7 linked regions of the Homo sapiens genome follow. The protein of the gene in region 4 purifies or fractionates together with the protein of the main gene of each other region. This does not show direct contact. Each region holds a gene or a part of one and is shown on either strand. Other genes may lie near its edges. The genes, in order: SUGP2, NUP133, RORC, FOXP3, SMC3, WRNIP1 and HIPK1.

Region 1 (4,186 bases), on a different chromosome or scaffold from region 4:
GTGCCTGCACTACATAGCTTTGAGCCATGTAAATAAACAACCTTTAGAAATCATTTAAGTCCAGAGCTGGGTGCGGTGGCTCATGCCTGTAATCCCAGCACTTTGGGAGGCCAAGGTGAGCAGATCACCTGAGATCAGGAGTTCAAGACCAGCCTGGCCAACATGGTGAAACCCCATCTCTGCTAAAAAAAATTCGAAAATTAGCTGGGTGTGGTGGCGGGTGCCTATAATCCCAGCTACTCGGGAGGATGAGGCTGGAGAATCACTTGAATCCAGGAGGCAGAGGTTGCAGTGATCCGAGATTGCGCCACTGCACTCCAGCCTGGGTGACAGAGCGAGACTCCGTCTCAAAAAAAAAAAAATCATTTAAGTCCAAAACCATGATAAGAGGAATTGGATGAATCCAAAACCATGGTAGGAGACATTAATGTTTCTCTGAAATGCGTAGACGACGTAATCCAAATAAGGTTGTGGAAGATTTTATAACACAGGAAATGAGCATAAACAGAGACAATCTGCTAATATTTGTTGAGCGGTTAATGACTACTAGGCAGTTTTCATAGCACTTGCCTCCTAGTGAAAAGCTTATAACGCAGGCCTCACAGCTGTATGATGAAGTAGCTACTGCTTATCATCTTCCCTGTCTTACAGATGGAGAAACTGAGGCACAGAAAGGTTCCCAGCTAATAAGTGGCTATGCTGAGATTTGAAGCCAGCAGACTGGCTTGTTGAGTGTTCTCTGTTCTTGATGTTATGTTCCACTGGAACTTGGGAGATGCATTTGGGACTGACATCCTCGGACTGCACTTGGCATCAGAACCATCCAGGAACAAGGAAAGCCATCAGAGCCATGAGTGACTGGGGCAGTCAGGTCACCTGGCCCTGATTCTGCGCTCTGCCCTTGATGAGGAGTTGCCTTGCTGGGGCTGTGTTTGACTTGAGAACCAGAGTGCCCATGTTGGTCAGCATTCTCTTAATTGAGCGCTATTGCTTATTAGGGCATGATCTTGCAGGATGCCACCGTTAGCCCAACAGAGTGCCAGGGCAGCAGTGGAGCCGGTACTCAGTCGTTTTGTCAGGTCCAGACAGACCTCAACTGGCTAACAGTGTCAGCAGGAGCTTGTGTATGGAGCTGCCTGCCAGGGACATGCCACATCACACAGTGCTGCCAATGCTGTGCAACACACAGCCACCTTACTTCTAGTTGGCTTGTCACTGGTAATCTGGAACCTCATCTAATAACTGATATGTCGCTACTTAATATCAAACAATCTGAAAGCCACCTGAAATACTGCCATACTTACTAAGCAATATTCTTCTTTAACACAAACTGAAATCAAATATTCACAAAAGTCTGTTATGTTTGTTGTGGGGTGGTTATTTATTTATTTATTTTTAAAGAGATGGGGTTTCGCCATGTTGCCCAGACTGGTCTTGAACTCCTGGGCTCAAGCGACCCACCTGCTTCCGCCTCCCAAAGTGCTGGGATTACAGGCGTGAGCCACCACGCCCATCTTAAAAGTTCGTTATGTATGAAATCACAGAGAAAATCACAGCACACCCAGGAAATTCACGTGGGCCACATTATGCCAATACAGCAAACTAGAAACCAGCAACAACCAAAATAAAACATGTTTCTGAATAACTTTTGAGTGAAGGGTAATCATAGCTGAAATTAGAAGCAATTTAGAAGGAAGTGGCAAGAAGAACATTATATACCAGATGCAGTCATAAAAATACTTAAGAGAAAGAGTGACTTCAGGTGACTTTATTAGAAATAGTGGGCCAGGTGCAGTGGCTCACACCTGTAATCCCAGCACTTTGAGAGGCTGAGGCGTATGGCTACCTTGAGCCCAAGAGTTTGAGATCAGCCTAGGCAACATGGTGAAATGTCCTCTCAACCAAAAACACAAAAATTAGCCAGGCGTGGTGGTGCGCGCCTGTAGTCCCAGCTACTGGGGAGGCTGAGGTGGGAGGATCACCTGAACCCAGAAGGTCGAGGCTGCGGTGAGCTGTAATCAACTCATGAAGCTAGAAGGAAAATGATGAAAAAAGTAAAGACACTAGAAGGAGAAGGTTTTTTTTTTTTTTAAAGATAGGGTCTTGCTCTGTTGCCCAGACTGGAGTGCAGTGGTGCAATCACAGCTCACCACAGCCTCTCGACTTCCTGGGCTCAAGTGATCCTCCCACCTTAGCCTCCAGAGTAGCTGGGACTATAGGCATGCACCACCACCCTGGCTAATTTTTTTATTTTGTGGAAATGGGATCTTGTTTTGTTGCCCAGGCTGGTCTTGAACTCCTGGGCTCAAGCAATCCTCCCGCCTCAGCCTCTCAAAGTGCTGGGATTACAGGTGTGAGCCACCACGCCCAGCTGAATATTTTTCTGTTAGTACATGTAGCTCAACCTTCTCTTTACTGTTCTCATCATGATGACTGGGTCATAAGATTTCACACCTGGGCCGCAGGCTCCTTGGTTAATGTTCTCTTGTGGTTCACATCACACTTTCCTTGATGCAGTCAAAAGCTCACCGAGCACTCATCCTGGCTGGGCCATTTAAAAGGTGTCAATTCTGCCTGCCAGGGTGCTATGGCTCCAAGGTGACTGGTTTGTGTTTCCAGGCCATCAAGAGCTGGGAGCTCCCTCACGGCTGCTGCTGATGGAAATCAAGGAGGAACTCAGTTCAAACTCCCGATTGCCCTGTGGTCACTCTTAGCAGGGCAGCTGTCTTGGGCCTAGCTCTGGGTCCTCAGTAGAGCCAGGCAGAGCCTCTGAGACAGGAGAGGACAGTGAGGAGTTGGCCACTTAGAAAGGGTTTGTGTTTGAAGGAACAATTTGGGACCTGGTGGTGTTTTCATAAATGTCCCGTTATGCTTGTTTTGTTATCTAGGTTTTTGTCTGATGAAAATAGTCTGGAGTATAAATATTACAAGCTGAAGTTGGCAGAAATGCAGCGGATGAGCGAGAACTTGCGAGGAGCCGACCAGAAGCCGACCTCAGCAGACTGTGCAGTGAGGGCCATGCTGTACTCCCGGGCTGTCCGCAACCTCAAGAAGAAACTCCTTCCGTGGCAGCGGCGGGGGCTCCTCCGTGCTCAAGGGCTCCGGGGCTGGAAGGCGAGGAGAGCGACCACCGGGACCCAGACCCTCCTATCCTCAGGCACCAGGCTGAAACACCACGGCCGGCAGGCTCCAGGCCTCTCACAGGCAAAACCATCCCTGCCAGACAGAAATGATGCTGCCAAGGACTGCCCGCCAGACCCAGTTGGACCTTCTCCTCAGGACCCCAGCTTAGAAGCCTCAGGCCCATCCCCCAAGCCAGCAGGAGTGGACATCTCTGAAGCACCTCAGACCTCTTCTCCCTGCCCATCTGCTGACAGTGGGTGCTCACTCCTGTCCCCCTCCTCTGGGCCCCAGTCCCTACTCTCCCATCTCCAGGGTCTCTTTAGAATTGGGGGGGCCTGCAATCTAGGCAAGGCAGTGGATAAAAGCTCTAGGGACCTGGCCAGGACAAGTGTACATGTTGGCGCTTTCTCTCTTGCTTTCTTGAGAGAGCTGCATGCGAGTCCTGCAGCTCCCTCCTCCTCTTCTGAGAGCGGAGCTGGTATGAGGTGCTGCCCCATGCCTTCGTGCTCCCCGACAGGGTCCTGCTGCTGGGGCCGTGGGCGGTGCATTGCCTGAACTTGGGATCCCATGTCCTGCTATATCCTGGCCTCCCTTGATAGTCTTCGGGACTGCCTTGTTCTCATTGCGCCTCCTCATCCCCAGGGTCTCCACAGTTCCTGTTCTTGGGGTTCGCTGACCTGCACTGCTTCCTCCGAATCGACTAACTTCACCCCTTCTGTTTCTTCTGTCACCTTAGCTGTTTCTTTCTCTCTGTACCACAGGCCTGCTCTCTGGCCAGTGCTTCCTAAGCACTAAGTGGGAAGGAGAGAGCAAAAAAGTGTCCACAACTGCTGCATTATTTAGGTGTTGCTGTGTCGTGAGCCGTTCCAAACTGTGGCTTAAAACAGGAGGCATCAGCTGGGCGTGGTGGCTCACACTTGTAATCCCAGCACTTTGGGAGGCCAAGGCGGGTGGATTGCCTGAGCTCAGGAGTTCGCAACCAGCCTGGGCAACATGGTGAAACCCGATCTCTACTAAAAATACAAAAAATTAGCTGGGCGTGGTGGCACATGCCTGTAGTCCC
Region 2 (4,186 bases), on a different chromosome or scaffold from region 4:
AAGGAGAATGAGTTCATTTGAACACAATCAAATTAAGTCTTTAATGGTTTTAGGTACTGTACAGTAGTCCCCCATTATCTTTGGGGGATATCTTCCAGGATCCCCAGTGGATGCCTGAAACCTTGTATAGTACTAAACCTTATATATACTGTGTTTTTTTAATACATACACACCTATGATAAACTTTAGTTTATAAATTAGGAACAGTAAAGATGAACAACAGTAATAATAAAGTAGAACAATTATAACAATATACCAGCAGCACTACTCTTGTACTTCGTTTGGGGTCATTAACTAAAATGAGAATATAAGCATTGCATTACTGCGACAGTTCATCTGGTAACTGAGACAGCTACTAAGTGACAAACAGCTGGATAGTCTCAGGGGTGTCCAATCTTTTGGCTTCCCTGGGCCACTTGGAAGAAGAATTGTCTTGGGTCACACATAAAATACACTTACGATAGCTGATGAGCTAAAAATAAATAATGAAAAGGTCTGTGTATAAATCTTATCATGTTTTAAGAAAGTTTACAAACTTGTGTTGGACCGCATTCAAAGCTGTCCTGGGCCACACGTGTCCCTGGGCCATGGGTTGGACAAGCTTGGGGTATACAGTATGGATATGCTGCACAAAGGGTTGATTCACAACCTTTAGGCAGGACAGTATGAGATTTTATCACTTTACCCAGAACAGCATGCAATTTACAACTTAGGAATTGTTCATTTGAATTTTCCATTTAATATTTTCAGACTACGATTGACCACAGGTATTTGAAACTGCAGATAAAAGGGGGAAATACTGTATATGCAAAATTCAGTCCTGTTTACAGAGTTGATCAGGTTTATGAAGTTTCCCGTGAAACCCCAAAACTGGCACCTCATGTTATTGGGTTTAATAATACAGTAAAATCAAGTCCTACCTCCATTTCTGGATCCTATGTAGCATCCCAGAGGCTGTGTGCACAAATTTATGACGTTACCATTGTCGTGGTGTACCTTTAGAAGCGTCTGTTGGTGGAGAATTAGTGTGGAATTTTGACAGATACAATCAACACAAGCTTAGAAAGGCAACTTTAAAGATGAGCAGTTGGATGACACTGGAAGAGCAAAGTTCAGAGCAGCCTTAATATCTGCTGAAGTCATTTTTATTAAGGCTTGAATTCTAGATCTTTGTGATTTTTCTGGAACAGTATTTTTCAAATTGTAGGGGTGACCAAAATTTAGCGGTTCTTGACCAGCATTTAAAAAAAGAAGAAATAGAATGCATCTCATATGTTTAGTAAATTTTGTTCGTTTTACTTAAATTGTATATGGGTGTATCGTGATGTAAAATGTATTATACTGTGAATAACTCTATTTACTGTATAACTTAATAACAGTAAAAAAAAAATGCTGAAATTACTCTGTTTTAGAAGAAGGAATATATCTCATCAACTGGAACTTGGCACATCTTGCCTGTAGGTCCTTGGGAGCTTTAGGGATAGTTGTTTTCAGACAACTACTAACCTTTCTATACATTGTTCTGTTTTAAATAAATAAATGTATATATATATATTGGTATATATGTGTATATTTTTCCCCTCTAAAAATTTCAGTTTACATTTAAACCTTTTAATGTACTACTCATATTTTAACAGACTAGATTAAATAACACAGCCCCAAATCTAGAAATTCAGAGAGTCCTTAGAAATTAGGATATATAAAACAAAGAGGTGTGTCAACTTGAAGAACTCTTCCCCACTTAGAAACCTGCCAACTACTGTTAAGTCAGCCCTTAAAGGCACACCGGTCGAGGATCTGGAGTTGTAGTGCTTTCAAGAAAAAGAAAATTACTGAGCAGATAGTTCAGTTGAGCAAAAAGCCTCACTCAGCCTGGGCTTGGTTTGATATTTTTGCTTGTACATTGTCTATGCCTTTTACTTCACCCTTCTACCTTTCTGTAAGTAAAGAGCAAAGCTCAACTTAATAAAATTTCCAGGGCTGTTAACACATTTGTGGAGGTTTACCACCAATACTTAAGATATGTGCTAATTTAGTTTTGTCACTTAATAGAGAACGTAACTCTTTGTCTCCATGTACTAAATAATTTATCATTCCTTTAAGGAGCTCTTATTTGAAAATTATGTGCTTTTGGTCCTCCAAAAGCACATTGTTTTCCTTGAAATGTTTTATATAGTTAATGAGTTTGTTATTTGTTTTACTTTATCGATATAATTATAAATGTTGCTAAATATTTCTTTTTTGTTTGTTTGTTTTGAGACAGAGTCTTGCTCTGTTGCCCAGGCTGGAGTGCAGTGGCGCGATCTCAGCTCAATGCAACCTCTGCCTCCCAGGTTCAAGTAATTCTCCTGCCTCAGCCTCCCGAGTAGCTAGGATTACAGGTGCACGCCACCATGCCCCCATGCCTGGCTAATTTTTTTTTCTATTTTTGGTAGAGATGGGGTTTCATCATGTTGGCCAGGCTGGTCTCGAACTCCTGACCTCATGATCCACCCACCTCGGCCTCCCAAAGTGCTGGGATTACAGGCGTGAGCCACCCTGCCTGGCCTCTCTTTTGTTGTTTCTGCTTACTTATTTTTTGATATGGAGTCTTGCTCTCTTGACCAGGTGGGAGTGATGTGATCATGGTTTACTGCAGCTTCAATCTCCTGGGCTCAAGTGGTTCTCCTGTGCCTCAGTCACCCTAGTAGCTGGGAAGTGCACTGCCAAGCCTGGCTATTTTTTTTTTTTTTTTTTAAGAGAGAGAGTCTCACTATGTTGCCCAGGCTGGCCTCAAGCAGTCCTCCCAGGGTGGCCTCCCAAAATATTGGGATTTATAAGCATGAGCCACTGTGCCTGGCCTAAATATGTCTTATAGGAAATAAGCTATCTGGTCTGTTTGTAACAAAAAATTAAGGAATATTAAATGTCCCAAATACACTTTTTGCCTTTAGATATATTTCTTTTTTCTTTCTTTTTTTTTTTTTTTTTTTTTTGAGATGGAGTCTGGCTCTGTTGCCCATGCTGGAGTGCAGTGGCACGATCTCGGCTCACTGGAACCTCCACCTCCCAGGTTCAAGCGATTCTCTTGCCTCAGCCTCCCAAGTAGCTGGGACTACAGGCACGTGCCACCACACTCAGCTAATTTTTTGTAGTTTTAGTAGAGTTGGAGTTTCACCATGTTAGCCAGGATGGTCTCGATCTCCTGACCTCGTGATCCTCCCACCTCGGCCTCCCAAAGTGCTGGGATTACAGGCGTTAGATATATTTCTAAAGTTGGTTATCAGAGTTAATAGATCTATTGTTTTTGGTGTTGATAATTTTGGAATATTCAAAAGTATTTGTTGTGAGGTAGTCGTTTCTGAGTGTGCCAATTACTTTTTTTTGATAAAGCGTGTGGTAATAAAGATTTATACTATAAGATTAATCACCCACCTCATTTTTTCCTTTAGTCGATGACCAGCTGACCATTAACATAGATGAAGGTGGATGGGCTTGTCTGGTGTGCAAAGAGAAGCTCATTATTTGGAAGATTGCTCTGTCACCTATTACTAAGGTAATGGCTCTTTAGAGAGCTGGAACAAGATAGAGGAGAGGAATGCCAATTGACTTTTCATTTTTACCCTAATTTTTTTACAGTTGGAGGATAGTCAATAGGAAACTACTTAGGCATTAAGAGTTTGCATTTTCATAGTGATGTGAAATAATGAGCATGCATACACATTTGTGTATTGGGAAAAAAGTTTCCCCCTTTTGAAGATCTGTGTTGTTTACATTTAATAAAATTAGAGTCATTGATATTTCCAATGAATATAATGCTAATCCGTCTGCCTAATGAAGTATCAGACTAAATGCTATCCACATAAGCAAATGAACTTTGAGTTTGCGTATTTCTGAGAAGACAGAACTATGTTTTGTTGAACCTACTGAATGATGCTTAATAAAATAAGAAAATATGATACCAGTTGCTAGTTAAACTTTTCACTTGTCCACTTCCAACAGTGGGTTATCATTTGCATGTCTAGTAACGTATCCTCAGCAACCTTTTTCTGTTTGTTACAGCTTAGATACACTACTCTCTTCTACCAGTCATTACTTCCTTGGCCATGTTCCGTTGGAACTCAGGGCTCCTGCTTACCTCAATTCTTCACTTCTGCTGAACTCTGTGTTACTGCTGCCTAGAAAAGGGTGTATGTGGTTAGGAGTA
Region 3 (4,186 bases), on a different chromosome or scaffold from region 4:
AGGGTGCGTCCTGGTCAAGGTCAAGATCTGTTGGGAGATGGGTGGAGCAGCTGGGGAGTCCTGCTGGCCAGGCGGCTCCCTGACAGCAGCAATGGTAAGAGGACTGTTGAGGAATTCCTGAGTTCCAAAAAGAACCTCCAAAAGTATCTGAGGTATCCAGGCCCTTAATTTTACAAAAAGACTGAGAGCCAAGGAGGCCGCGTACTTGGCCCAATGTTACACAGCTGGTATCTGATGGGGGCTGGTAATTACTAGGGGCCCTGAACGCACTCTCCTGTTACAGTGTTTCCCTTGTTACGGTGTTTCCCTCTGTGCCTCCAGCCTGCTTGTGAGTAAAAGGAGGCCAGAGCAGTTGCTGTGCTCTGAAGCAACAGGACAGCGAGAGTCAACTGAGGTTGGCAGGCAGCAGGGCACAGAATCCCCGCGTCCAGGCCTCAAAGCCACCAGGCTTTCTGCCCAATCCAGGGACATGAGGACTATGTGGAATCCAGTCAGGGTGCACCCGGGCACATGCCTGCGTGTGTGTGCATGTGTGTGTGTGCGTGTGTGTGTGGGGTGTGTGTGTATGTGTGTGTGTGGTTCTCCAGGGTCAGTCACCCATTTGACCGGGGAAGCAAGGCAATGGAGATGGGATTGGAAAGACCTCGGCCTCACCCTTTTCCTGGCTTGGAGCCCTGGGCCAACAGTTGGTGGGCAGATGTCTGGGGTTCCTGTGCCTTCCAGCAGAGCAAGGGTGGGCAACCTCAGGAAGTCCCCTGTATTTGTTGTGAAGGGAAGCCAGGGAAGCCAGAGAAGCTCTCAGAGCACAAGGTGAAGGAGGAAAAGGGAAGCCCCATGCCCCTGTGGCTGAGGCCTGAAGCAGCCCCAGCTTCAACCTGGGGTCTTCCCACAAGCCACAGAAGGGAGGCCGTATTGAGTCCTGGAAAGACCCCTGGACTGACAGTGTAAGACCAGGCACTTGTGCCGCCTATCACTGGCTAGCCATATAGACTTAGACAAGCCAAGTCACTGGGCCCTGGTCTACCATCCGCAAAACAAGGGAGCTGAATTTTAAGATAGAACAACAAAACCAACTATGGAGAGTCTCCCATTCCAAAGGCCCAGGGCCAAGAGAGAGCCCAGTGCCCTAAGGCAGGCATCCCCAAGGGTGATGATGGAGACTCAGCTCTCCCAGAGGTTAGAAGGAAGGGAAACCAAGGAAAGAAAAGAATTCCACTTCTGTGACAGGGACTGAGGCCACAGTGCAGGCATATGAGCTGGGGTGGATAAGGAGGGCTGGAGAGAAGAGCCAACAGCTTCTACACAGAGGAAAGGGCCCCTTGGAGCTTCCGTTTCCCTTCTAGCTTCTCTCTATTAGCAGCAAACGCTGGCAGACTGGTCTTCCCAGAGATGGCCCCTAATGAGCAAATCAACCCTGGGATGAAATGACTAGGTGTGCTTCTAGCCCAGCAGCGGGGCAGGAGTCCCCAGGAGGGGCTGAGGGAGACACTTGGCCAGCTCTCCATTATTCCCACCCCCACCACACACACACAGCCCCACCCAGGCGGGGAAGTAGGAGAGAGGGCCTCCTCCAACGAGGGGGTCAGTGCCACTGGTCCTTCTCACTTGGACATTTACAGGTATCTCATAGCCCCAAGTTATCTGACCCCAATGAGTGCCAACCACCACCAGCCCCTCCAACCGCCGATGGCAAAAGTCAAAGCACATGGGGCTTGGGACTGTGACACACCCAGAGACCAAGGGCCCGACAAAAGGAGCAGAAACAAATCAAGAAATAAGGAGAGATGCAGAGGCCCAACTCAGAGGGCGAGTTTCTGGAACACCTAGGGAGAGAGTAATGTCCAGCTGGAGGTGTGGTTGGAGAAACACCAATAGAGCCAAACGCATGGAGGTGCAGCCGGGCGTGGTGGCTCATGCCTATAATCCCACTTCAGGAGGCTGAGGCTTGAGGCCAGGAGTTTGAGACCAGCCTGGGCAACAAAGTGAGCCGCTGTCCCTACAAAAAAAGTTTTTTTTAATTCGCTGGGCATGGTGGCGTGTACCTGTAGTCCCAGCTACTCAGGAGACTGAGGCAGGAGGATCGTTTGAGCCCAGGAGTTCAAGGCTGCAGTGAGCTATGATCAATGTCACAGCACCCTAGCTTAGGTGACAGAGCGAGACCCTGTCTCTTAAACAAACAAACAAACATGAAGGTGTGAAGCCCAGAAACAGAGCTGGAATGCAGAAGATCACAAGGCACATAGACACAGGGAGAGGCGGAGAGAAAAGATAACTGGCAGTAAAGGGAAGACAGGGAGACACAGGGTCTAGGCAAGCGGTAAGAGGGAAGTAGGGTGGCTCTGACAAGGATGGCACCAGCACCCTGCCATCCGACCTGCTGCTGTCAAGTGGAGATAATGTGTCTGTACGCCAAAGAGACTCCCAGCCAGCCAGACGGAGGGTAGCCCAGACATCTTCCCCTAAGGGCATGGCCAGCGTGGCGCCAATAGGCACTCAGGCCCTGGCATTTGGTCTGGATGGGGAGGTGGGAGGCCGAGGGGTGTGAGGTCACTGTCTATGAGCTGATCTTTCTTAGGTTTGGTCATGATCATGAGGAACAGTGGGCCAGAAAGGACTCCAAGTCCCCAGGGTACACAGATATCACCCTGAGAGCCCAGGGCCATCTTAGGACTCCGTGAAGGGCTTCTTCCTTCCTTTCATCACTCCAGCACCCTTCTCTTTCCCCGTCTTCCCATTCCTAACAGAAATACCAAACCACCGAGCCCAAGGTGCTAGACTCTGAAAAGACTCAGCTTGTCCCAGCACAATGAAAATATTCGGTCCCTACCAAGGGCTCCTCCCCATCCCCTGCCGCTGTGCTGCTGACTCAAACTAACAGGGAACAGGACTTTCCAAGGGCTAAGGTCTCTCCCAGGCGGGCAGCCCAAGGCCCGCGCTCCTGTTCCCATATAGCTAGTCCTTTCTGAAGTCTCACCTCCACGCCTGCTGCTGCAGTGCAGCCCCTTCCCTGGGGCTCTGAGGCTCAAAAAGGATGGAGATGTCTATTTCGGGGGAGGGACAGTAACAAGGCAGGGCCTCAGGGCCAGAGCCAAGGTCTTTCTGGGTCCACTACCCTCCTGGAGCAGTGAAGGTGCTCTGGGATGAGGGACAGATGGCCCTGAAGGCAGGGAAGGTGCTGATGGTGACGTCTGGGCTCCCACTCGCCAGAGCTTCCTCCTAGTGATTCATCCCCTCCCCCATTCACTGGTTGTTTTCACTCGCCTTTCTCCAGTCCCAGACTGTGGGGGTGGCGGAGGCACCAGGAGGGGGTTTCGGGTGGCTGGCTGGCTGTCATTCATGGCTTTTCAAAACCCCAGACTCTCCCTCGCCCACCTGAGTTTTAGCTTCACTATTTTCTCAGCCCCAGGATCTGGGTGTTTCAGCAGAAAATTCTCACCAGGAGCTGCGGTGAGGGCCCTGGCCTGGGCTGGGGGTAGTGTTCGCCAGGTAGAACCACTTCTCCCCCAGCCCCCACCCAGCCCTCCCGCTCCTGCTCCCCTGTGGTGGCACCCACCACCTTGGTTTCCAGCTTTGCAGAAGCTGGGGGAACTGAGAGCTGAGAAAGGAGGGAGGCTGGTGACAGGTTGGGGTGTGCAAGTGACCCCTGACCGGAGCTGTGGTCTCGGTGGGGATCGAGACAGAGAGTTCTGGCTGTGGGGAGAGGAGGAGCTCAAGCTAAGGAAAGAGATGCATTCCTCTTTCTCACTCATTCATTCATTCTGCAAAGGGAGGCATACCAAGATGTATGGAAACCTAGTCTATACCCTAAAGGGGCTGTGGTGTTCCTGAGGAGTCCCCGGGAACCCTGTTGTTGATATATAAGTCATCCCACTTGGCCTTAGAGAAAGGGGTAAGGGCAGGAGGAGGCTGGGACCTCAGAGGAAGAGTTGGGACAGAGGGAATAATATCTCTTGGGATCTTTATACAAACAGGAGTCCTGGCTTTAGTTCTGTGGGTTTCCTCTGTGAATTCTGTTCCTAGACCACCACAATCACCTCACACTTTTACCCCTACAGCCAAATAACCATGTCCTCTACCCAGGTCTCCGGTGTGCATTTGGGCGTCTTATCCTCATAAAGTATATAGCTTAAGGCTTGAGGGCACTGGCTGCAGAATTACAGAGATCTAGGTTCAAATGCCAGATCTG
Region 4 (4,186 bases):
CTCTTTGTGTGTGTCTCTTTGTCTCTATGTATCCCTATCTCTCAGCCAGTCCCCTGGATAGAGGGGCAATTGTCAACTTGAAGCCCTGCAGACACCTAATGACTTAACCAGACAGCGTAGAAGGGCCCTGGCCCTTGTCTACTCCACGCCTCTCCGTGCTCAGTGTAGAAGGGCAAATTGAAGACCAGAGATCTCAGGGCCTCACCGAAATGCAGCGGCAGAGTTGAAATCCAAGCCTAGATCTCAGGACTCTAGGTGGGACCCTGGTTCTGGCTCTCTCCCCAACTGCAGGCCTCAGTTTACCCCTCAGCACCCAGAAGGGGGAAGGGGAACCTGGGCTACCATTCCCCCTTCTGCCTTCTCACACGTTGGACCCCAACTTCCCACAGGTTGGACGATCCACGATCACAGTGTGGGGCCCAGCCTCACAAGAGCTGGGCTAGGTGAGGCCCCGGACTCCATAGGTCAGGAGGCCTAGTTGGCCAGAGCGTGGTGATGATGGAGGCATGTCAGTCAGTCAGGCTGTGTGTCCCCAGAGCTGGTGCTGGTCCCCGAAAACCTTGATTGTGGGGCCCCTCTAGAGAGTCTGATGATGGGCTCTGTATTGGCGAAGGCTGAGGCTTTTCCAGCTCCCCCCATGAGGCCCAGACCAAAGGCACACCAGCCTCAACCTCCTCCTCCCCCTGTTGCCATCTCTGGCGGAGTGGCCATGTATTTGGGAACGTTGTTCCAGAGTGGACAGGGAGACTGAGGCCCTAGGGAGGCTGGCTCTGTTTCCAGGCCTGGTAGGCAAGAGGCCCTATGAAGCAGCAAGCTGCCTGACTTTCAGATGGTTCCAAGGAGTTTGGACACCAGGGACACTGGCCTACACATACTGAGACTTTGGGACCGTAGACCCCACAGTCTGTGGTTTTGAGATTCTAGGATCCTTTAAATCTAAGAAATGCTGTTCTATGATTCTGAGGTCCTGGTGTTATACTATTTGAAGACCCCAGGGGTCCCAGTATCTGTGGAGCCTGCCTGGCACTCTCAGAGCTTCAAACCTGGGTCCTCTCCACAACCCAAGAAGGGCCAGGTCTTCAGAGCTAGGGGCTTGTCATAGTGGCCAGATGGACATCACCTACCACATCCACCAGCACCCATGTCACCCCACCTGGGCCAAGCCTGCTGCAGGACAGGGCAGCCAGTTCTCGGAACGAAACCTGTGGGGTGGGGTATCTGCCCTCTTCTCTTCCTCCGTGGTGTCGATGAAGCCCGGCGCATCCGGCCGCCATGACGTCAATGGCGGAAAAATCTGGGCAAGTCGGGGGCTGTGACAACAGGGCCCAGATGCAGACCCCGATATGAAAACATAATCTGTGTCCCAGAAACATCCCCCATTCAGCTTCTGAGAAACCCAGTCAGAAAGGGACGTCCCAACAGACAGTGCAGGAAGCCGGCTGCCCAGCCCGGCCCTCTAGGTCCTCTACCCCCAGACAGATCATCTCCATGTCCCTGTCTGAGAATGTATCTATGCTTTGCTGAGTCAGGCCATCCCACATGTGTTTGGGGAGAATTCTTAGCTCTGGCCAAGTGTCCAGGCAGCTTCAGAAGTGACCACAGGCCAGCCACATGGGCCAGGCCAGAGTGGTGGAAAACATCCATTTGCACCGAAATCGGTATTAGTTTGTTCTGGCTGCTATAACAAAGTACCACAACTGAGTGGCTTCAGCAACAGAAATTGATCATCTCACAGTTCTGGAGGCCAGAGTCCAAGATCAAGGTGTTGCCAGGGTTGGTTCCTTCTGGGGGCCATAAGGGAGAAGCTGCTCCAGGCCTCTCCCCCAGCTTCTGGTGGTTGCTGGCAATCTTTGTTATTTCTTGGCTTGAAGGAGCATCACCCCATCTCTGGCTTCATTCATTCACTCACCTTCTCATCTCACCAGTGCTCTCCCAGGCCCTTGTTCGGAGCCTCCACAGACCCACACTCCTGTTTCTCACGCAGTAATGTTCTAAGCCCCCAGGAGACTAAGAACTTAATACCTGGATTCTCACACTCATCTCCCTCAGCACCACAGCTCTGACAACCACCCCCAGGAGGTGACAGCAAAGAAAGGAAGGAGCAACTGCTCCCCCAGAACCCTTCTATACTCCCCCGGGCTGCTCTCAGCAGCTGTGTGCCCAACTCAGTGCTGTGAGGTGGAACGGGGAGATGGAGACACACACACACACACACCAGAGAGTTTATAAAATGTGCACACGGAAACACTTCCTAAAGAAAGAAGTGGAGTTCTCAAGTCACTATGGGACTACGGAACTCGGCATCTGAGCATCCCCTTCTGTATAATGGGGTTGGCTGGGCAGTCCCTTCCAGCTCTGGCTTCCTCTCAGACCAGGATTATAGGATCCTGAAAAGCCAGTGCTTCCCTCAGGGAGTGGAAGGTTCTGGGGCTCAGCAGGGGGCCCGGAGCCATTGTGGAGGGCTTTCAAGGTGAGGACAATAGAAGAGCAGGTCTTGCGTGGCTTGGACAGGGAAAGAGGAGAAGGAGTGGGCATTTGAGGCAGGGGGTGTAGCATGAGCCAGGCTTGAGGGCCAGAAATTGGGGTGAACTCTGATGGGGGCTGGGTAGAGAAGCTTCTACAGGCCCCAGCTCAAGAGACCCCATCTCTCCTCCTCTCTGTCACTTGCCATGCTGGATCCGTGCATGATCACACTCCTGGACTCGCCTCCTTGCCCTGAGATCCAGACCCCCGTATTCAGCTGCCCCCTCAGCTCCTCCACTCACATATTTAATGCCAGACTCTTCATGTCTATCTACACCTGCACTTTTGCACCCAATCCAACTCCCCGCCATGTCCCCCATCTCAGGTAATGTCAGCTCGGTCCTTCCAGCTGCTCAAGCTAAAACCCATGTCACTTTGACTCTCCCTCTTGCCCACTACATCCAAGCTGCTAGCACTGCTCCTGATCCAGCTTCAGATTAAGTCTCAGAATCTACCCACTTCTCGCCTTCTCCACTGCCACCAGCCCATTCTGTGCCAGCATCATCACTTGCCAGGACTGTTACAATAGCCTCCTCACTAGCCCCACTCACAGCAGCCAGATGAATCTTTTGAGTCCATGCCTAGTCACTGGGGCAAAATAGGACTCCGAGGAGAAAGTCCGAGACCAGCTCCGGCAAGATGAGCAAACACAGCCTGTGCAGGGTGCAGGGAGGGCTAGAGGCCTGAGGCTTGAAACAGCTCTCAAGTGGAGGGGGAAACAACCATTGCCCTCATAGAGGACACATCCACACCAGGGCTGTGCTAGCGTGGGCAGGCAAGCCAGGTGCTGGACCTCTGCACGTGGGGCATGTGTGGGTATGTACATGTACCTGTGTTCTTGGTGTGTGTGTGTGTGTGTGTGTGTGTGTGTGTCTAGAGCTGGGGTGCAACTATGGGGCCCCTCGGGACATGTCCCAGCCAATGCCTGCTTTGACCAGAGGAGTGTCCACGTGGCTCAGGTGGTCGAGTATCTCATACCGCCCTAGCACACGTGTGACTCCTTTCCCCTATTGTCTACGCAGCCTGCCCTTGGACAAGGACCCGATGCCCAACCCCAGGCCTGGCAAGCCCTCGGCCCCTTCCTTGGCCCTTGGCCCATCCCCAGGAGCCTCGCCCAGCTGGAGGGCTGCACCCAAAGCCTCAGACCTGCTGGGGGCCCGGGGCCCAGGGGGAACCTTCCAGGGCCGAGATCTTCGAGGCGGGGCCCATGCCTCCTCTTCTTCCTTGAACCCCATGCCACCATCGCAGCTGCAGGTGAGGCCCTGGGCCCAGGATGGGGCAGGCAGGGTGGGGTACCTGGACCTACAGGTGCCGACCTTTACTGTGGCACTGGGCGGGAGGGGGGCTGGCTGGGGCACAGGAAGTGGTTTCTGGGTCCCAGGCAAGTCTGTGACTTATGCAGATGTTGCAGGGCCAAGAAAATCCCCACCTGCCAGGCCTCAGAGATTGGAGGCTCTCCCCGACCTCCCAATCCCTGTCTCAGGAGAGGAGGAGGCCGTATTGTAGTCCCATGAGCATAGCTATGTGTCCCCATCCCCATGTGACAAGAGAAGAGGACTGGGGCCAAGTAGGTGAGGTGACAGGGCTGAGGCCAGCTCTGCAACTTATTAGCTGTTTGATCTTTAAAAAGTTACTCGATCTCCATGAGCCTCAGTTTCCATAC
Region 5 (4,186 bases), on a different chromosome or scaffold from region 4:
TGTGTTCAGATAGCCTGGGGATGAATTAAGTAATTGCTGCAGAAAAGTTAAATTTTACCTAGGGAATTTGTTAACTCTTTTATGGTTTCAGATACCACTGAGTCCCAAATTCCTTATGTGTAGAATTAAAGGGTTTAATTATCCAAGATGTTAAAAGTCATTCTGATTATCCAAGATTTTTTGAGACAGAGTCTCGCTGTGTCACCAGGTTGGAGTGCAGTGACACAATCTCAGCTCACTGCAACCTCCCCATCCTGGGTTCAAGTGATTCTCCTGCCTCAGCCTCCCCCAGTAGCTGGGACTACAGGCGTGTGCCATCACGCCTGGCTAATTTTTGTATTTTCAGTAGAGACGGGGTTTCACGATGTTGCCCAGGATGGTCTCCATCTCTTGACTTCATGAGCTGCCCACCTCGGCCTCCCAAAGTGCTGGGATTACAGGTGTGAGCCACCGCGCCCGGCCAATCTAAGATTTTGTGACTCAGTAGTAACATTGACTTTTTGTCAGTGGAATTAGTAGTAACATTGACTTTTGTCCATTAAAATTTTGGACAAAAAGTCAGTGTTACTACTGAGGATGAATAATTGTCAGTACTCTGTGGGAATATTTACAATTACTTTGATATCTGACAATAATTAGTTATAATACAAACAGATGAATGTAATTACTTTATGAAGCAGTTTGAAGCCCTTCCCCTGAAGGATGATCTTCAGCTTTATTTTGCTTGTCTTATTGCTTCCCAGTAAGGCAAGGATTTTTGTTTGCTTTGGTCTTTTATGATTCCCCAGCTCTTCTAAGAATGCCTGGTACATACTGGGGTTTTGGTAACTTCACTAAGTGGATGAAGTGTCAGCTTCCTTAAACTCTAGCCAGTGAGGCTATTGGATTTTTTCAGCTCAGTATAGTCTACTAAATTAATGAATACAGTTCATTAATTCTCCTTAAGGAAACAGCATCTTACGTTAGGTTCTTAGAGATTTGTTATAGGTTCTGCCAAGATTTTTAACTCATTTTTCTTGAATGTAAAATAGTTGAAAATAGTTTTTGTGTTCTGTTGTGTGTGTGTGTAGAGGGGGCAGTATGAAAGTATATAATGGACTATTATGAGAACTTAGAATTTTTTTTCTAAAATTCTGGAGTGTATATTATAGAAATAGGAAGATTTAGATCACTAATGAACAAATTAACTTTTAGCAACATGTTTTATAGTATTTAATGGTTTGTGTTTTCTGGTGTGGTATGCTCTTTTGCCTAAAGACAACTTTTAAAAACTGAAATGGGGCCGGGCGCAGTGTCTCACGCCTGTAATCTCAGCACTTTGGGAGGCCGAGACGGGCGGATCATGAGGTCAGGAGATCGAGACCATCCTGGCTAACACGGTGAAACTCCGTCTCTACTAAAAATACAAAAAACAAAAAAAACAAACTGAAATTGGATTTTTCAACAGCATCATTGAGGTATAATTCACATACAGTAAATTGTACATATTTAGTGTACATCATTTTTCCTAGTCAGGAAAGTGGCAAAAATAAAGTATATAATTTGATGAGTTTTGACATACGTATACATCTGTAAAACACCACACAGTTAAGACACCACACACCACAGTTAAGACAATAAACACGTTTATTACCCAAAAGCGTTTTCCATACCCCTTTGTAATTCCTCCCTCACCTTTTGTCCGCCTCCCCCATCCATCTGCAACCACTGATCTGCTTTCTATCAGTGTAGATTAGTTTCATGAAATTGAATTTTAAATTTATTTTTATTTCCATAGAAACTGGACCAGGATCTTAATGAAGTCAAAGCTCGAGTAGAAGAACTGGACAGAAAATATTACGAAGTAAAAAATAAGAAAGATGAACTACAAAGTGAAAGAAAGTTAGTATAGACTAAAATGTGCATTAATGTTTTCAGTAATGTTCGTTACTAGCTGTTATGTGGTCTTTAAGTTACAAGTTAACCGGTCAGGCTTGTTTTCTGTATTTTGATTCTAAACTGTATACTGTTAATGCATCCTCATATGTGTTTAAAATTAAAGACAGTCTACTTTTTATTTATTAGCTACTTGTGGAGAGAAGAGAATGCAGAACAGCAAGCACTTGCTGCTAAAAGAGAAGATCTTGAAAAGAAGCAACAACTTCTTAGAGCAGCAACAGGAAAGGTGGGCAGGTTCTTTTCATCACCTCTGTTTACACTGAGTCATTGAGTTAATCGTTATGTAATAATTTTTTACCTTTCAAGGTGTAGGTCATGGGTTCCAAGTGATAAATAGGAGTCCAAATTATCTTCTAAATATGAAATGATAGAGATTAAATAGTTTTATTACTACACATACTATTAATAGCACTTTTGATGTTCAGATAAAGAGCCCATTTTTAACACTACTGTTATGGAACAGAGCCTATCATATAAGGTGTTACATGTAGTTGGCATATTGTGAGGAGGTGATGTGTTTGTTGGAGAGGATGTTTAGTTTAATCACTGGTATATTTTTAAAATGTATGGTGTTGTGGGCTCATTCCTTACCAGGAGTGCCATTGATGATATTATTTTAATATTTTTCATTTCTGACAACTTACAGGCCATTTTAAATGGAATAGACAGCATAAACAAAGTGCTAGACCACTTCCGTCGAAAAGGAATAAACCAGCATGTTCAAAATGGCTATCATGGTATTGTAATGAATAACTTTGAATGTGAACCAGCTTTCTACACATGCGTGGAAGTCACTGCTGGAAACAGGTTAAAGCTTTTGCTTGATATTTAGCATTTTTAGAAGAGGGAATAAGAATAGCTTAAACAACTTTTGTAGTTTTTGTACAACATATCTTCCATTATCTTTTTATATCTCGGTTCCTTAACTTTCTAATTAAAGAAGTAGATGCTAAGTATTTGTTCCTAATTATAGAAGCTAGAACTTTCCTCTTTTGGGAGTTTCTCCCTCCCCGCCATTGGAATTTTTAAAGTAGTCTTATTTTCCAAAATTATTTGGATTATATAGGAAAAAACTGTTTGATGCTTAAGTGTTTATAACATTTTAAAAGTGCACACCTTTAGTCCCAGCTATGCAGGAGGCTGAGGTGGGAGGATTGATAAGTTTGGGCAACATAGGGAGACCCTGAGTACCAATAAAGATTTGTCTTACTCTGTTTATATTTAGGTTATTTTATCACATTGTTGATTCAGATGAAGTCAGCACGAAGATTTTAATGGAGTTTAATAAAATGAATCTTCCTGGAGAGGTTACTTTTCTGCCTCTTAACAAGTTAGATGTCAGGGATACAGCCTATCCTGAAACCAATGTGAGTCATTGTGTGATAAGGTGTATTTCTCTTTTATAATGTTATTTTTTATCACATAATCTAACACATGCTAGTGCCCAGGCACTATACACTGGGATTCAGTGGTGTATGAGATAAAAATATCTGTCTTCCCATGGACCTTAGTGCTGAGTGGGTTTTGGGGAGGGAGACAGAAGTCACAGCTATGATTGGTGTGGTGATGCACGCCTGTAATCCCAGCTACTTGGGAGGCTGAAGTGGGAGGATCATTTAAAAAGAAGAGAAAAAAGCTAAGATATGAAACAAATCATTGCAAATGTGCAGTGTTAAAAGCGTAAGTACAGGATACTTTGAGAGCATATCTGGGAGTGACATAATTAAGGTTAGGGAGTTGGAGAAAGATTCCCAAGGAACTGTCATGTATAGTTTAAAAGTGTCTTGACGTACTTAGGATTAAATGAAAAAAATGGCTAGTAAGGTGATAGACTTCGGAAGCATAACATTGCTTTTGTTGGTAACAAAAGTGCACTTTAGGTGGATTAAAAATATTCTTCAGACACCATTCTTAGAACAGTGTAATTGCTTTGAGGTACTTGACTTCAGAATGTTGATGGTAGCATCAACTGTTTTACCATCCTCTGAAGTTAAAGCTGAAACCCCATGAGAATGATCAATAATTTAAGTGGAACATTAAGAATCTTGTAAGCTATCAAAGGGTCTGACTTTTTCTGCTATCACATCTACAAATTGTCTTTGAAGTTTGGGTAAGAAAAATTGAGTCTCAAAAACATGATGTATGAATGGAACGAGACACAAAGGAGTACATGGAGCGTGGTTCCATTTACGCTGAGTAAACAAAACCAAACTTAGGGCCAGGCTCGGTGGCTCACACCTGTAATCCC
Region 6 (4,186 bases), on a different chromosome or scaffold from region 4:
CCTCTTCCAGGTGCCTAAATCCTGAAGCTTTCTACACATTGGGTAATACTGGAATTTGGAGGATACTACTTAGACAGCTGGATATGTAAGTTGGAGAAGGAGTGCAGTAAGTAAAAATGTACCTGTTATTTCAAGGCAGAATGAAAGAATATGCATGGCTTGGTTAAACTCTCCCTCTCTAAATTACAAACCAAACCCCACAAATCTCTTCCACTAAGGAAAAGGAACATTTCATGGTCAGGGTGATAACTGCTGTGTAGAAGTTTCAACCAGGGATATGCATCAAGTTAGACACAAATACAGCCACATGTACCTTACCTACCATAGACTGAGCTCAAATCTCCAGGGGCAGACCCTGGGCAAGGCATGTTTCTAAAATGTATCCCAGGGAAGTGTGATGTGCAGATCTGGTTAAAAGGCTCTCCTGCTGCTCTTACACAAAGAAGTGCCAAGAGAGAAAAGTCAGAACAGAAAAACCGAGCAGTGGGTCCATCCTCTGTAAACTTGGCACCTCCACCCCTTGTAGCACTTGAAGTCACTGAGAAGACAGAGACATGCCTTAAACACTGGCTCCATCACATTGAAGCTGGTTGGTCTTGGGCATGTTACTTAACCTTTTTGTGCCTCAGTTTCCTCATCTAGTAAATAGGAGGTAATGAGATCTACTTTGCAGAGCTGTATTGAGGACTGAATGAGATTAAGACATGTGGAATGCTTAGAGCAGTGCCTGCCATGTCATGAGACTCGACAAATACTGCTTTGGTATCAACAGCGAGGAGAATCACCCTCATCAGACTGTGCAACAGCATACTCTCCAGAACTGCACATATCCAAGGCAGAGCCCCAGATGCTGCCGCTTCCATAACATCAGAGTGAAAGCAAAGCAAAACAAAACTGACTTTCTCCACAAAGAGAGAAGGTACATTTCAGATGACGACGTCTTTCTGTTTAATCCCATGGAGGCACATGTCTTTCCAAATTACATTATACTTGGTAGGGGTCTGTAGTGGGTTGAATAGTGACCCCAAAAGATGTAAGTCCTAATCCCTGGAACCTGTGACTGTGACTTTATTTGGAAATAGGGTCTTTGTAGATGTAACTAAGGGTCTCAAGATGAAATCATCCTGGATTTAGAGTGTACCTTAAATCCAATGACAAATGTCCTTACAAAACACAGAAAAAGAGAAGACGTAAGGACACAGAGAAGAAGGCCACCATGTGAAGATGGATGTAGAGACTGGAGTGACATAGTCATAAGCCAAGGAATGCCAAGGGCCATCAGATGCTGGATGAGAGCATCGCCTTGTTGATACCTTGATTCTGGTCTTCTGGCTTTCAGAACTGTGAGGATAAAGCTCTGTGTTCTGAGCCACCCAGTTTGTGGCAATTGTTACAGCAGCCACAGGAAGTGCATCCAAGGACCATGAGATCTGTGGTTCTGGCTGCTGGTGCTTTTATGGCATTATTTTAATGCACCCTTGTATTAAAACAGCTATGTTAATGTACTGTATTAATGTACTTAAAAAATTTTTAAATAAAAAGATTGACATCTACTCTATACCAACCATTTATTCTGGCCAATCCCTTGTATTCTGGAGTTCCACTACCTTTCTTTCTATTCAATGGCACAAAAGGTTATTTAAGACACTTTAAACTTTTATAAAAAGAAGAATCCATAGCCACCTTGTTTGGGGGCCAGCTTGTCAGGGGCTCTCCTCTCCAGATGATTAGAGAAAAGCCCCACACCCAGTTACGCCACAGCCCTTACCCAGGGACAGACGCCACTTTCTGTCTTCCAACCACCTCTCGGAACTCAGCCTAGCTAGGCAGAGGGCAGTTATGGCTTCTCATTTCACTCTCTTGATCTCCAAAGACTTGTATACTCTATCTGGTTCACAAATAATTGATTCTTTAGGAGTGTTTTTGACTATGTATATATTCTATGACCTAGGAATCTATATTCCTTCAAAGCAGCAAGTAGTGCAGGATGACGAAATGCTAGCTTACTTTTTCATTTTCAGCAGCACAAGCTCATTCTTCGTATCATGAATCATGGACATTTTTTTCCTGGCCTCCAAAATTAACCCAGAGCAGACAGAATCTTCACTGTTTGTATCATGTGATCCAAATATTTTTGGGAGAGCAAAATACCTGAACACTACTGCTTAGCCATACAAACCAAAGCAACTATGGCGTAGACAATGAGCTTTCTATTTCACTCAGTTAAATTCTGCTTATCCTTCAAAACTCAACTCCGCATCCCCTCATCTAGGAGGTGAAATACTGGATTTCACATATTCTGAATGCTGCTTCTCTACGCCCACTGCACTTGGCGTATAAGCGTGGCACTGGAAGTGGACCTGCTCCCCTAGCCTTCATCATACTGCGCTCCCTCTGAAGGCACAGGAACAAGCTTTTCAACCCTCAGCCAATGCCTAGCATATGCAGGAGCTTCAATTTTGACTGAATAATAACTACAGGAGGGAATTTTTTTTTAAAAAAAGAACACTTATTTCACTTTAATGGGAATTTATCACTTACATGAGTATACTGTGTGACAACTCACAATTCCTCAAGTGCAATCAAGAACGGCTAAGCGGCAGCTTGATTAGTTTCCAAATCCAGTGCCCTGCTCACCTCCTCTCACGTGCAGTTCAACAGCCTGGGACTTCTCTGTAAATGTTCTAGTTGCTATCTAGGGCACCAAAACATGACACAAGAATACAAATGCACACCAATAGCTTCCTGGAGAGAGAAAGTAAGTATATGGGGTTGGAAGTCTTTTCTTTCAACTAGATTAGTGTCACCAAATCTGATTTATATGCACAAGGATGTATATAGAGCTGTCAACAGGGATTGGAAAGCAAAATTTTACCTAAAACAACTAAAAGACATCCCAATCCACTCTTAATTATCCCTGACAGTTGGGGTGGCAGGTACTTGTATTCGGAAATCACTTGTAAGAGTTCTTTCTGTGGCCTATGATATCTCCTAACTTAACTTCTTGTTAGAATTGCTAACAAGTTGACCAATTAATGGTTTTAAGCTTAACATTCTTTCATTTTACTCTGCTTGCTGCTGATGAAAAGGGCAATAGTATTAAAGAAAAAGGCTCTTGATACCTGGGTAATTATCCCTTATGCTGGATAATGCAAAACATATTAAACTACTTTTCTCATATCGAAAGCTAGGATTTATTCATTTCCAAACCATTCACAAAGCACATAATGTGTGCCAGGCACTGTGCTGGGGATATGAACAGGGACAAGCTCCTGTCCTCACAGTCTTCCCAGGAAAGCGGGGGACACAAGATAGCAAATATAATTGGGATCAAGTCTAAGCAAGCGGTAGTGGAAATAGTAAATCATTTACTGGATATGGGAAGTTTTCTCTGAAAAGCAATTTTAGCAGATAAACAATCTCTAGCTCATTGTTATATCAGTTTCAATAACTAAATCTTAATTATTTCACTTGATCTTCTCAAACTTTAATGTGCCTGCAAATCACCTGAGGATTTTTAATAATAAAATATAGAAATTCTTCTCACAAGGATGAGCTCCTTGGCTGCCGCCTTTCTCATTTCCTTTAAATTCCTGCACGGCAGTGACTGGGGAGAGGTGAAAAAACCTGAGGGTATCTGAGTAACAACTGATTATTATTGACTTCATGTCATCAATATTAATTATTGATTTCATGTTCTATTTCATGAACTGATGACATGAAATCAATAAAAATCACCCCAGACAAGTACACATGCAGAATATTAAGTTGCAGATACATTACGATAACCAGTACACAGAGCAAAGAACACACAGAAACATGAAACATGTTAGGATTTCCCCCCTTTTCTTTCAATTTGTCTTTACCATGTGGTTCTATGCGTCTGTAATGAGAATTCTGTTACGGGAAACCTACACATGAGTATCCCACATCTGAAGTGCCTGGGACCAGAAGTGGTCTGAATTTCCTATTTTTTTGATTTTAGAATATTTGCATTATATACTTACCAGATGAGCACCCAAAATCCAGAAATCTGAAGTGCTCCAATAAGCATTTCCTTTCACAGCATCATGAAGGTGCTCAAAAAGCTTTAGATTTGGGAGCATTTTGGATTTCAGATTTGGGATACTCAACCTGTACTACATATGAGGAGCTGGCAGCCCCCTTAGGCTCTGACAAATGCCCA
Region 7 (4,186 bases), on a different chromosome or scaffold from region 4:
TGTTTATTTTGCTTGGATTAATATACAAATGAGATTGTAGTCTCAGAAACACATTCAGTGCTGATGGGAGAAAGCAGACAAGACGTGTGATATTGCAAGAAGAATTAGCAGGCAATTAGGTTTGCCACAGATGATTTGAATTTGGCAATTGAGATGTAGACAGGACTTGATAATATTGAAAATGACTGCAAAAGTGTTTTGGAAAACAGTTATATTCTTTAGATTTTTTTCTCACCCAGTGTCATAGCAGTGATGCTTTTGATGGTTTTATTACCAACCCAATTACTTCCATCATCTTTGCCCTGTTAGATACTGGACTTAAGCTCCCTGGTTTAGTTATTGTGTTAGTTGGGTAATAGCAGTTGCAGTAACAAATCCTAGATTTTTGTAGCATAACATAGTAGAATTTTACTTCTCTCTCATATAATTTCTTGGTACAAGTGTTTGATTCCTGAGCATCCAGTCAGAAGGAGAAAGAAAGTGTGAAGGAGGCACACACATGTCTTAACCTCTTTAGGCTGGAAATAAGTGGAAATAGTGAATGCTTCTCACATGGCCCCACCTAGATGCAAGTGAGCCCAGGCAATGTAGTCTTGTTAAGGCAGCTGCTTTTCAGTGACAACTTCATACCAAGGAAGGGGTTGGTGAAGTTTAGGTGTCAACATAAACCTGGGCCATACTTGTATAAATTATGTTTTATTATGTATTATCTTACTGCCATAGACATAAACAGGGTTGTAATTTGAGGGTATTGTGTTATGCCTCTGTGTGATTCTTTTCAGAAGTAGACAGTTGTCCCATTGCAGACAAGAGAGAGAGCTTCCTGATGCCAGGCTACTGAATAGAATTATTAGTACCTCCGTGTGCTCTTGGGTCCAGAGAATATAGGCTATCACATGAGACACTGAATAAATGCTCTGGTTTTCCTAATGGGAACACAGAAGCAAGCAAAATTTCACATTCAGCTGTCCTGTAATTTCTAAGAATTTGAAGACAGTAAGTGTCCAACAAGATAGAATTTTGCCTTCTTTTAAACCCTCTTGCCACTTTAATATCCTAAGAATTACCAATAGCTTTCTCAGCTTCACATTATCATTTCTGTGCTTGTTTAATCCCTTCCTACATAAAACTATAAACTCTTGGAGAGAGGGATGGTGTCTTAGCATATTTGTATTTCCAGTCGTTCCTTGTATATAACAAGAGATTATAGTTAAAATATTTATAATATTTATTTAAGTGAACATTTTGAGGATCCTATGTGGAGATTTGTGCCAAGACAGAAAAGAAATGGGTGATAACAGGTTATTTTCTTCTGATGTAAATAGAATTGAGACCTTAATGCTTGCAAACTACATACAGATGTGGACTAATTAATATGATGCCATCTGAGGTTAGCTCAGTGATGTCTACTCATAACTATTAAGCCTGGTGCTTTTTTAGGTCTCCTGAGCAATAAGACTAAGCCAGTCGCTTCAGTGAGTGGGCAGTCATCTGGATGCTGTATCACCCCCACAGGGTATCGAGCTCAACGCGGGGGGACCAGTGCAGCACAACCACTCAATCTTAGCCAGGTAAGTGCTATGGGCTACTGCCTTCTGTTTGGGCCCTGCACTGTTGTTACTTTCTGGAGAACCCTGCTTCTGGCTGGATGCTGAATAAAGCCAAATGAAGCCCCTTTTGTGTCAAACAATTTTGTGTTCTATGGCTTACGTCGTACCGCATATGCTGTGTCTCTTCATTCACTCTGTAAGTGTGTTCAGGATGTACATTCTAGGTTTTCCATCAGACCTCCCTAAGTCTACCCTGGAAGGTTAGAGAAACGTCTGGGATTTAGAAAGAGCCTGGGGTGCTTTAACCATGTCTGTGATAGGCATATGCTTTGAGACCAGATTCTCTTTATCCCCCAGGCCATAAGTAAGCTGATCCTTACATTGTTTACTTGAGTCAAGAGATTGTGAAAAGCTCATTGGCCACCAAATTCAACTGGTTCTAGGTCCTACTTGTTGCTGGAGTCTGCGATTTGGGACTTCCCCACTCTCCGAACACCCCCAGCCCCAACCTACCCTTCTGCTTCTCTCATTACTTTATTCTATTTGTGTTCACTCTTAGAAGCTAAAATTCGAGTGCTTGTATGATGTCCACCAGTAGTGAGAAAGTGTCAGTATGAGGGTATGTGAGAGAGAGCACATGCAAGTGAAAATGTAAGTTTGAGTTAGTGCATGTATTTTAGTTTCCACATTTCAAGAGGGGTATGAAGAACTTAGAGGACGAAAACAAAAGAAAGCAATGGTAAGAAATAAAGGCTAGGAAAAATTCAAATTTACTGACGCCAGAATAGGGTGAGTTGAGTCACCAGTTATTAACTTGCAGGAGTGGGGAACCCTATGATCTCTTGATTCTCCCTCTTCCTGTCATACTTACAAGCAAAATGCTGTTACCTGAGCCAGATTAGGATCTATCTTGCTAAGAGGCAGAAGGAGGGGTGGCTGATTTCTGACAGCATTCAATGCCAGTGTGGGAGATTATGTGCTATACCCATTCGAAAACAGTACAAGTCAGAACCTGAGCTCTTAACTTGGCCTTTGGTGCCCTGAGCTGGAGTGACCTCAGGATTCCTCACTTCTTCCTTCTTTCTTCCAGAACCAGCAGTCATCGGCGGCTCCAACCTCACAGGAGAGAAGCAGCAACCCAGCCCCCCGCAGGCAGCAGGCGTTTGTGGCCCCTCTCTCCCAAGCCCCCTACACCTTCCAGCATGGCAGCCCGCTACACTCGACAGGGCACCCACACCTTGCCCCGGCCCCTGCTCACCTGCCAAGCCAGGCTCATCTGTATACGTATGCTGCCCCGACTTCTGCTGCTGCACTGGGCTCAACCAGCTCCATTGCTCATCTTTTCTCCCCACAGGGTTCCTCAAGGCATGCTGCAGCCTATACCACTCACCCTAGCACTTTGGTGCACCAGGTCCCTGTCAGTGTTGGGCCCAGCCTCCTCACTTCTGCCAGCGTGGCCCCTGCTCAGTACCAACACCAGTTTGCCACCCAATCCTACATTGGGTCTTCCCGAGGCTCAACAATTTACACTGGATACCCGCTGAGTCCTACCAAGATCAGCCAGTATTCCTACTTATAGTTGGTGAGCATGAGGGAGGAGGAATCATGGCTACCTTCTCCTGGCCCTGCGTTCTTAATATTGGGCTATGGAGAGATCCTCCTTTACCCTCTTGAAATTTCTTAGCCAGCAACTTGTTCTGCAGGGGCCCACTGAAGCAGAAGGTTTTTCTCTGGGGGAACCTGTCTCAGTGTTGACTGCATTGTTGTAGTCTTCCCAAAGTTTGCCCTATTTTTAAATTCATTATTTTTGTGACAGTAATTTTGGTACTTGGAAGAGTTCAGATGCCCATCTTCTGCAGTTACCAAGGAAGAGAGATTGTTCTGAAGTTACCCTCTGAAAAATATTTTGTCTCTCTGACTTGATTTCTATAAATGCTTTTAAAAACAAGTGAAGCCCCTCTTTATTTCATTTTGTGTTATTGTGATTGCTGGTCAGGAAAAATGCTGATAGAAGGAGTTGAAATCTGATGACAAAAAAAGAAAAATTACTTTTTGTTTGTTTATAAACTCAGACTTGCCTATTTTATTTTAAAAGCGGCTTACACAATCTCCCTTTTGTTTATTGGACATTTAAACTTACAGAGTTTCAGTTTTGTTTTAATGTCATATTATACTTAATGGGCAATTGTTATTTTTGCAAAACTGGTTACGTATTACTCTGTGTTACTATTGAGATTCTCTCAATTGCTCCTGTGTTTGTTATAAAGTAGTGTTTAAAAGGCAGCTCACCATTTGCTGGTAACTTAATGTGAGAGAATCCATATCTGCGTGAAAACACCAAGTATTCTTTTTAAATGAAGCACCATGAATTCTTTTTTAAATTATTTTTTAAAAGTCTTTCTCTCTCTGATTCAGCTTAAATTTTTTTATCGAAAAAGCCATTAAGGTGGTTATTATTACATGGTGGTGGTGGTTTTATTATATGCAAAATCTCTGTCTATTATGAGATACTGGCATTGATGAGCTTTGCCTAAAGATTAGTATGAATTTTCAGTAATACACCTCTGTTTTGCTCATCTCTCCCTTCTGTTTTATGTGATTTGTTTGGGGAGAAAGCTAAAAAAACCTGAAACCAG

The links.
Region 1: the proteins of FOXP3 (region 4) and SUGP2 purify together in Homo sapiens (affinity purification with mass spectrometry, with the first as the bait; one large-scale study listed by BioGRID). This does not show direct contact.
Region 2: the proteins of FOXP3 (region 4) and NUP133 purify together in Homo sapiens (affinity purification with mass spectrometry; one large-scale study listed by BioGRID and IntAct). This does not show direct contact.
Region 3: the proteins of FOXP3 (region 4) and RORC purify together in Homo sapiens (co-immunoprecipitation; one study listed by IntAct). This does not show direct contact.
Region 5: the proteins of FOXP3 (region 4) and SMC3 purify together in Homo sapiens (affinity purification with mass spectrometry; one large-scale study listed by BioGRID and IntAct). This does not show direct contact.
Region 6: the proteins of FOXP3 (region 4) and WRNIP1 purify together in Homo sapiens (affinity purification with mass spectrometry; one large-scale study listed by BioGRID and IntAct). This does not show direct contact.
Region 7: the proteins of FOXP3 (region 4) and HIPK1 purify together in Homo sapiens (affinity purification with mass spectrometry; one large-scale study listed by BioGRID and IntAct). This does not show direct contact.

What each region holds. Positions count from the first base shown.
Region 1 is NC_000019.10:19,009,045-19,013,230, reverse strand, and holds part of SUGP2 (SURP and G-patch domain-containing protein 2), read left to right. Parts: intron 1-2,888; coding exon 2,889-3,376; intron 3,377-4,186. UniProt on the Homo sapiens protein: May play a role in mRNA splicing.
Region 2 is NC_000001.11:229,501,348-229,505,533, reverse strand, and holds part of NUP133 (nuclear pore complex protein Nup133), read left to right. Parts: intron 1-3,431; coding exon 3,432-3,535; intron 3,536-4,186. UniProt on the Homo sapiens protein: Involved in poly(A)+ RNA transport. Involved in nephrogenesis.
Region 3 is NC_000001.11:151,821,640-151,825,825, reverse strand, and holds part of RORC (nuclear receptor ROR-gamma), read left to right. Parts: intron 1-4,186. UniProt on the Homo sapiens protein: Nuclear receptor that binds DNA as a monomer to ROR response elements (RORE) containing a single core motif half-site 5'-AGGTCA-3' preceded by a short A-T-rich sequence.
Region 4 is NC_000023.11:49,257,887-49,262,072, reverse strand, and holds part of FOXP3 (forkhead box protein P3), read left to right. Parts: intron 1-3,545; 5' UTR 3,546-3,567; coding exon 3,568-3,777; intron 3,778-4,186. UniProt on the Homo sapiens protein: Transcriptional regulator which is crucial for the development and inhibitory function of regulatory T-cells (Treg).
Region 5 is NC_000010.11:110,587,828-110,592,013, forward strand, and holds part of SMC3 (structural maintenance of chromosomes protein 3), read left to right. Parts: intron 1-1,777; coding exon 1,778-1,881; intron 1,882-2,064; coding exon 2,065-2,164; intron 2,165-2,584; coding exon 2,585-2,745; intron 2,746-3,163; coding exon 3,164-3,305; intron 3,306-4,186. UniProt on the Homo sapiens protein: Central component of cohesin, a complex required for chromosome cohesion during the cell cycle. The cohesin complex may form a large proteinaceous ring within which sister chromatids can be trapped.
Region 6 is NC_000006.12:2,771,497-2,775,682, reverse strand, and holds part of WRNIP1 (ATPase WRNIP1), read right to left. Parts: intron 2,746-4,186; coding exon of another isoform or gene 2,685-2,745; exon of another isoform or gene 2,632-2,684; intron 1-2,631. UniProt on the Homo sapiens protein: Functions as a modulator of initiation or reinitiation events during DNA polymerase delta-mediated DNA synthesis. In the presence of ATP, stimulation of DNA polymerase delta-mediated DNA synthesis is decreased.
Region 7 is NC_000001.11:113,970,384-113,974,569, forward strand, and holds part of HIPK1 (homeodomain-interacting protein kinase 1), read left to right. Parts: intron 1-1,440; coding exon 1,441-1,571; coding exon of another isoform or gene 1,572-1,655; exon of another isoform or gene 1,656-1,675; intron 1,676-2,640; coding exon 2,641-3,129; 3' UTR 3,130-4,186.